2 separate regions of the Homo sapiens genome follow, and region 2 is linked to region 1. The links come from fine-mapping of genetic effects on gene expression. A gene starts in region 1. The other region holds a variant in brackets. All regions are shown on one strand. Distances are from middle to middle.

Region 1 (4,321 bases):
AGTTTAATGACATAGCTCTTATATTTAGGCCTTTGATCTCAATAAAAGTATAGGCCATTTGGAGTTCATTTCTGTATATGGTATGAAGAAAGACATCTATTCTTTTTTTTTTTTCATCTATTCTTTCTTTCTTGAGACGGAGTCTTGTTCTGTCACCCTGACTGGAGTGCAGTGGCACGATCTCGGCTCACTGCAACCTCTGCCTCCTGGGTTCAAGCGATTCTCACGTCTTGGCCTCCTGAGTAGCTGGACAGGCACGCACCACTGGGCTCAGCTAATTTTTGTATTTTTTAATAGAGACAGGGTTTCCCTATGTTGGCCAGGCTGGTCTCGAACTCCTGACCTCAAGTGATCCGCCTGCTTAGGCCTCCCAAAGTGCTGGGATTACAGGTGTGAGCCACCATGCCCGGCCTAGACATCTATTCTTGAATGTCTATCAGGTCTCTCAAACCCAAACTTCTAGTATTCCTCTACCAAACCTGCTCTTCCCAGTCTTCCCTATCTCAGCAAATGCTCACGTTAAAAATCTTGAAGTCGGCTGGGCGCGGTGGCTCAGAGCCTGTTCTAGCACTTTGGGAGACCGACACAGGAGGACTGCTTGAAGCCAGGAGTTCAAGACCAACCTGGCCAACATAGATTTTTAAAATCTTGAAGTCGTCCTTAAGTTCTCTTTTTCTTTTACAATCTACCTCCAAACCATTAGCAAATGATGTTGGCTTCACCTTCAAACCATATCTCAAATTTACCATCTCCTCCTCTATTAATCTGGATTATTACAACAGCCTTTTAACTGGTCTTCCGGCTTTCACCTTTGCCTCCCCACAATCTAATGAGCAGCCACTGATCCTGTTAAAATTTAAGTCTCTGCTCTAAACCCTTCAATGACTTCCTATTTCACTCATAATAAAAACCATAGTGCCTTCCAAGACCTACAAGGTCCTACCTAAAGAATTTGCCCCTACCATACACACACCTTTCTGGTCTCATCTCACCTCTCTCCCAGTCCCTCTCCCTGGACTCCTGGTTGCCCTGTCTTTGCCTTCTTTGGAATGCTGCTGCCCAAGGTATCTCCATGGCTGGCCCCTTCACCTGGTCTTTGCTCAAATTCACCTTCTTAGTGAGGCCTTCTCTAATCACTGTATTTAAAATAGCAATTGTGCGTCCCTTGATACTACTTATTCCCCTACCCTCTAACCTTTGTTTATTTTTCTCCACAGTATTTATCATCATCCGACACACTACGTATTTTACTTGTTTATTCCCCCCCCATTAGAATGTAATCTTCATGAAAGCAAGGACTTCGATTTGTTCATCTGTAACCCCCACTGCTCACAACAATGCCAACACAAGTAGACCTTCAATAATTAATTGAACTAATTAATAAATAACATAAATTATAGTCGCCCGTTGCTGCACCTGTTCCCTTACTGGACTGAGAGCTTTCTGCAAGCAGTGACACCCTTATTCACCCATGAACTCCCAGCACCTAACATTTGCGCTCGGCACATAGTAGGCATTGATTTTAAATGAATGAACCAACAAGACAGGCCTATGAAACATCTCAGCCTTTCAAACACAGTCCCTATGCTATCATTCCCTAAATATGTCAGTGTGTGGGGGTTATCCGAAGGAAGAGGTTCCAATACCAATTTCCACGCCCTCACGCGTACACCCTCTGTTATCCCTACAATACCCAAGCGAGAAAATGAGTAACGGTGACAGCCAGAAAATGAATCCTGAACCGTGCAATGACAAGTCCGAAGGAGAAAGCAGTTGCGATGAGATGAAAGAAGGTAGCGGGACTCAAAACAGAAACACTGTCCCGGGGGTGGTGGCAAGGAGAGGGAAAGGCCCCAGTGGCCACAACCATAGAGTCCTGCTCTCTTTTGACAGCTAAGGAAACTAACGCCCAGAGAGGAAAGCGACTCCCCCGAGGTCACACAGCAAGTGAGCCACGGCGAGAACCCACAGCATCCCGCGTCCGCGCGCCGCCCCAGCTCCCTCGCGTTTGGGGTGGTGTCCTCCGCGCAGAGCCCCCACCAGCGCACGTGCTCCGAGGTCCCCGGACGCCCGCCCGCCCACGGCTCGGGGCCGGCTCCCCATCTCGGTCCAACGCTGGGGTCGACGGCAGTGCGCTGCGCCCGCCTCCTGCGCCCCTCTCAGCCAGCCCGGGAGCCCGCCAGGGGCCGGCGGCTGGCAGCGCTCACCGCGAAGGTGGGCCCGGGCCGCCCGCTCTGCGCCCGCCGCTTACCTGGCAGGGTCCCGCGGGAACCTGAAGAAGGCCAAGTCGGACTGCGTGCTCTTCCGCGTGCAGTTGGGGGCAGCGCAGAAGTTCGGCATCGTCGCCCGCCCGCCGGCCGGCCCAGCCCTCCCCTCCCCGCCTCCTCAGGGCAGTCCGCCCGCCCGTCGGGGCCGGGGAGGGGAGCCAGGCCGGCCGGCCGGCTCGGCAGGGCCGACGCGCGGGGGAGGGGCGGGCGGGCTAGAAGCCGCGAGGGCCAGGAGGGGTGCCGCGGTCCGAGGCCGGGCTGGGGACGCGGCTCCACAGTGCTGTGAGCGGCCGGGAGGATTTACCGCCGCCGCCGCCGCTGGTGCACCTCCCGCCCGCCCGAGACGCTGCCGCCTCCTTCCCACAATGCACCCTGACGCCCGGGGGTGCCCTCTCTTCCCTCAGCCTTCCTCCCCCGCCCCTCCTTTCCGCCTTCTCAGCAGGCGGGCACGCGCAAGGAAGCGCGCCTGCCGGGGTGTGGCGAGGCGGAGGCGGGACCTGGCGCGCGCCGCCGCAGTGCGACTGCGCACAGTCTAATCCGCGGGGAGAGAGAATTGCGCATGCGCGCCTGTCTCCCGGGACGCTAGAGCAGGCGGTTCCTGGGCTGCTCCGGTAGGTTTGGCGTGCGCGGGTTTCTGCAGATCTAGGGCGAGCTTGCACGTTACATCACCGATGCATCTCTTCTTGCTTGCTTAATTTGCCACCACTTAGGCCTTTCTTGCAGAATTCGCCATATACTCCTTAAGGGCCGCGGAATCGGAGCGACCTTGGTGACTGGCAAACTCTCGGCAGATGTGCGTGCACTGGTTTGATGCAGACGTGGTTGTAGGCGATTTAATTTTTCCCAGCTTTGCAGCGACTGTTGGCTTCCCAGAACGGATCTCCCCAGCCTCGACTGGAAGCTGAGGGACAAAAATTCATAAAAGCAATTACTCTTTCCCGGCGAGGCTTCTAGAAGAGCAAGAAGAGCGATATGATTACACCTGCAGCCCTATAAAGATTGATCTGTCCGTCTTTCCCTTACAGTCGTGGCCTGTTAAACGTTCCTGTGTTGTTCAGTGCCAGAATGAGTGACCGCTATTTAGAACAAAGGATTAGTATCAAATTTTGCGTGAAATTGAACAAGTCTGCAAGTGAGACCCACCATCTTTTAAAAGAAGCTTATGGGGATGAAGTCATGTCAAGGGCCAGAGTTTTTGACTGGCACAAAAGGTTTAAAGAAGGACGGGAAGATGTTCGAGATGATGCCCGAAGTGGGCGTCCAGTCACCCACCGAACAGATGACAATATCCAGAAGGTCAAGGACTTGGTTTGTTCAAACAGGCAGTTAACCGTGAGGATGATGGCTGAAGAGTTAAATTTAGACAAAGAAACTGTTAGGCTCATTTTGAAAGAAAACTTGAACATGAGGAAGATTTCTGCAAAAGTTATTTCGGGTGTTTTGAAGGGTGAGCCTAAACCACGAAAACTTGACTTTCGGTCCGATCTTTCAAAGGAAACTAGGAAAAATAGCTCATGTTTGAGGAAAAAGGTAACAGGTTCTGAAACATGGAGTTATCTCCAGGGTGAAGCTGGTGGGGAAATGCCCCTGCCGGTATCCCATCCCAGAGTCCACTACTCTGCCAGTCAGCTTCTGCAGGCGTCATCTTCAACAAGCCTTCCCCCCAGGGTAGCTGAGAATTGGTTCACCCCATGGTGAGAGGAATGTGAGTTAGCTGAACCAGAACTAGGATGCTGCCTCACTGTTAGGCACCTTCTTTGGCTGCTCACGTATTTTTCAGTCTTCACCACTCCTCCCTATGTGCCATGGCCCTCCTCATTACTCTTTGCTGGACTCTTGGACCATTTTCCTTGCTGTTCTCCATAACTTTGAAAAACTTTTGGCTGTTCCCTTCTGGTATTTGCTTGTTCTTGATTTCTTTTGCTCAACAAGTTTGGATTTCTTCTCTGCCCAGACCTTAGCTTGTTGTGGCTGTCCTGTTCCTTTGTTCTCAACCTTCTGCCTCAGAGGATCATGCCAGTGAGAAGAGAGGAACAGGATCTCCTGGAATCTGT
Region 2 (4,386 bases), 45 kb before region 1:
TACAGAAGGGAGACAAATGACCACCTTTGGAGAAGGAAACTGGAGACTGAAGGAGCCAAGGGTGGGAGGAAAACGCTTCAAAGTGCACCCTAGTGCACTGTTTGGAATATATTAATACCATAAGCCCATGGTAGCTTTTTCAAAAAACAGTCAATCAGCTGGGCACGGTGGCTCACACCTGTAATCCCAGCACTTTGGGAAGCCGAGGCGGGCAGATCACCTGAGGTCAGGAGTTCAAGACCAGCCTGGCCAACATGGCCAAATCCCGTCTCTACTAAAAATACAAAAATTAGCCAGGTGTGGCGGCACGCTACTCGGGAGGCTGAGGCAGGGGAATTGGCTGAACCTGGGAGGTAAAGGTTGCAGTGAGCCGAGATCGTGCTACTGCACTCCAGCCTAGGCAACAGGGTAAGGCTCTGTCTCAAACAAACAACCAGTCAATTCCCCACTCCCTCAAATAAAGACGTTCCATGACACAAAAGGATTTTTGGTGAAATAAGTTTGGTACATGCAGGGTTAAGTGATGTTCAAGTGTCTTTGCTGCATAGGTTTGGGGTGGGGTGGCCTTTAACATGCTGCTGGGTCTGGTGAACCCATCTGAGGCCTGGTGCTCTCTACGCTTGCTGCTGGGACCATTTTTCCAGTCCATCTGATGTGGTTTGGCTCTGTGTCCCCACCCAAATCTCATGCTGAATTGTAATCCCCAGTGCTGGAGGAGGGGCCTAGTGGGAGGTGATTGAATCACGGGGGTGGTGGTTGTGAACAAAATGCTGATAGTGATATGGACAATGAAGTCCAGGCTAAAGAGGTCTCAGATGGAGATGAGAAACTTATTGGGAACTGGTGTAAACGTCACTCTTGCTATGCTTTAGCAAAGAGACTGGCAGCATTATGCCCCTGTGCTCTAGGGATTTCTTGAACTTTGAACTTGAGAGAGATGATCTGGGGTATCTGGTGGAAGAAATTTCTAAGCAGCAAAGCATTCATGATGTGGCCTCACTGCTTCTAAAAGCCTACACTCACCTGCATAAACAAAGAAATGACTTGAAATTGGAACTTATATTTAAAAGGGAAGCAAAGCACAAAGATGTGGACAATTTGCAGCCTGGCCATGTGGTAGAAAAGGAAAACACATTTTCGGGGAAGGAATTCAAGCTGGCTTCAGAAATTTGCATAAGAGGAGCTTTACTTATTAAATACTTAATTACATTAAAGCATGTTAATAGCCAAGGCAATGGGGAAAATGCGTCCATAGCATTGCAGAGATCTTTGCGGCAGCCCTTCCCATCACAGGCCTGGAGGCCTAGGAGGGAAGAATGGTTTCACTGGCTGGGCCCAGGGCCCTGCTGTCTTGCGCAACCTTGGGACACTGCTCCCTGCGTCCCAGCCATGCCTAACAGGGGCCAAGCTGTATCTCAGGCTACTGTTCAAAAAGTGCAAGCAAGTCTTGGCAGCTTCCTGTGGGTGCACAGAGAGCAAGAGCTGAGGCTTGGGAGCCTCCACCTAGATTTCAGAGGATATATGAAAACACCTGGATGTCCAGGCAGAAGTCTGCTGCAGGGGTGGAGCCCTCATGGAGAACCTGTACTAGGGCACTGTGGAGGAGAAATGTGGGGCTGGAGCCCCCACACAGTCTCCACTGGGGCACTGCCTAGTGGAGCTGTGGGAAGACGGCCACCATCCTCCAGATGGCAGAATGGTAGATCCATCAACAGCTTGCACCCTGTAGCTGGAAAAGCCACAGGCACTCAACACCAGACCATGAAAGCAGCCAAGGGGTCTATATCCTGCAGAGCCACAGGGGTGGAGCTGCCCAGGACTTTGGGAGCCCACCCCTTGCATCAATGTGGCCTGAATATGAGATATGGAGTCTTAAGAGATTATTTTGGAACTTTGAGATTTAATGACTGCCCTGCTGGATTTTGGACTTGCATGGGCCTGTAGCCTCTTTGTTTTGGCCAATTTCTCCCTTTTGGAATGGCAGCATTTACCCAATGCCTATACCCACACTGTATCTTAGAAGTAACTAACTTGCCTCTGATTTTATAGGCTCATAGGTGAAAGGGATTTGCCTTGTCTCAGATGAGAATTTGGATTGTGGACTTTTGAGTTAAAACTTAGGGAACTATTGAGAAGTAATTATTGTGTTTTTAAGTGTGAGGACATGAGATTTGGGAGGGGCCAGGGGTGGAATGATACAGTTTGGCTCTGTGTCTCCACCCAGATCTCAGGTTGAATTATAATCCAGTGTTGGAGGGGAAGGCTTGTGGGAGTTGACTGAATCATGGGGGTGGTTTCTAATGATTTAGGCACATCCTCCAGTGCTGTCTTGTGACAGAGTTGTCATGAGATCTGGTTTTTTGAAAGTGCATAGCACCTCCCCCTTTCCTCTCTCTCTTCCTCCTGCTACAGCCATGTAAGATGTGCCTACTTCCTCTTTGCCTTCCACT[G/A]TGGTTGTAAGTTTCCTAAGGCCTCCCAGCCATGCTTCCTGTACAGCATGTGGAACCATGAGCTGATTAAACCACTTTTCTTTATAAATTACCCAGTCTCAGGTAGTTCTCTACAGCAATGCAAGAATAGACTAATACAGCATCCCTGAGGACTAGTATTCTGTGTATTAGATGTTGGGGATCACCACCTCCAGAAGCAAGTACAAATGCCCTCACCTTCCTGTACACACACACACACACACACACACACACACACACACACACCTCCCAGCTTTTCCTGAAGTGCATTCCTCAGGCCACTGATCTGAGATTCTCCATGGTCAAACATTCCTGGGAAACACTGCTCTGTCAAAGTAAATGACAAAGTAAATGACAAATGATCACCAACATTTCTCCGAGACTTTAATACTTCTCTGCCTTAGCTCCCACCATTCTTTCCATCGGGACTGCTTTTGTTTTAACTCGTTTCTCTCTGCCAAAGTTCTATGTCATCTGTCAAGGGTTGAATCTCATGCTTTTTGCACCATGATGAAGGCTTCTTGGATCCTAACAAAGTGCTTGAGGTGCCTGACGGGTGTCCCCACTCATTGAAAGAAATAAATTACTGAGTGCAATAGGGGAATGACTGAAAGGAGGGAGGAGGAAGTGATAGGTGGATGGGGAAGTGGAGAATTAGATCATTGGGAGTGATTGTGACCGGGTTAATGAGTGGTGGCATGCAGTAGTTTGCTATTCCTGTCCACAATTCTACTCATTGTGGGTGGTTTAGGCAGGATCTTGAGCTCTACAGGTTGGACTGAGGTTCCCACAGTAGCCTGTTGGTGGCTCTTGGGCAGCCCCCAGAAACAGGTGAAAGGTCCCTCTCCTCAGCCTTCCCCTTGGTCTCTCATTCTTTTCTGAGAATGAGAACACTGCCACCAAGTCTCTGCCACCACTGGACAGTGATCTAGGAGTGTCTTGCTGCATTGCCTGTTCTTGTCCTTTAGACCATCCCCATGGGCACTCCAGAGGAGAGGGCACCTGAATTAGTTTGACCAGAGAAACTGGTAGGGCTCTGTGGAAACTGGGCTGTACTCACTTCCCACCCAGATTCTGCAGCTCACTGGACACCCCTATACTGCCCCTCTCAGGGGCCATAGGAGGGTGGACCTCCAAAAGGACCCAAAATGGGGAGGCCTATTGACCTGCTTATCCTCATTTATTTTTTATTTATTTTTATTTTTTGAGACAGGGTCTCACTGTCACCCAGGCTGGAGAGCAGTGGCACAATCATGGCTCACCACAACCTGGACCTCCTGGGCTCAGGTGATCCTCCCACCTCAGCCTCCCTAGTAGCTGGGACCACACAAGTGCACCACCATGCCTAGGTAATTAAAAAAAAAAAAAATTAATGGAGACAAGGTCTCACCATGTTGCCCAGGCTGGTCTCAAACTGCTGGGCTCAAGTGATCAGCCTACCTCAACCTCCCAAAGTACTGGGATTACAGGCATGAGCCACAGCACCTGGCCTGACCTACTTATCCTTATAAGCAATTTCCTCTGGAACCGTCACATCAGCAAATTGTCTACCCTCTTTGAACCTCATTTCCTCCTAACTCTACAATGGGTCTATCTATCTCACAGGCTAGTTTTAAGTTAAAGTAGATTAAAGTGCCTGGCCTATAGTAGGTCCCTAGCAGCAGTTACTTTCCTCCTTTTCCCCAGTCCTGATTCTGAGCTGCTAGACAGAGACTATTTTTCAGTTTTCCATCATGTGGTGTCAGGACACTGAATGTAGGATAAGTTGGGATGATGGGAGGGGGCAGCTGTGGCCCAGTCCATGTCAAATACAGGTGTGCAAATTTTAAAAGAAGCCTCACTGCACCTCTGCCTGCCCCCCTCCTCCCACTCCAGGGAAGGCTTTCCTGAGCCTTTCCCCTTCAAGGATTGCTTTTAT

What was found. PIP is the estimated chance that this variant, and not a neighbour inherited with it, causes the effect. A credible set is the group of variants that fine-mapping cannot tell apart.
Region 2: its variant is the best candidate, but not a certain one, in a credible set for the expression of THAP12 in whole blood (TOPMed, PIP 0.71).

What each region holds. Positions count from the first base shown.
Region 1 is chr11:76,378,497-76,382,817 of GRCh38, forward strand. It overlaps THAP12 (THAP domain containing 12), which reads right to left and starts at 2,636. Exons shown (of 5, transcript NM_004705.4): 1 at 2,252-2,636. The coding sequence starts at 2,340. GVQW3 (GVQW motif containing 3) reads left to right here and starts at 2,827. Exons shown (of 2, transcript NM_001347885.2): 1 at 2,827-3,797. The coding sequence starts at 3,333. RefSeq lists an enhancer at 1,841-2,342 and a silencer at 1,985-2,914.
Region 2 is chr11:76,333,661-76,338,046 of GRCh38, forward strand. No RefSeq gene overlaps it. Among named protein-coding and RNA genes, the nearest start is that of THAP12, 45 kb to the right of the region's middle. The variant G/A (reference allele first, on the strand shown) is at 2,451.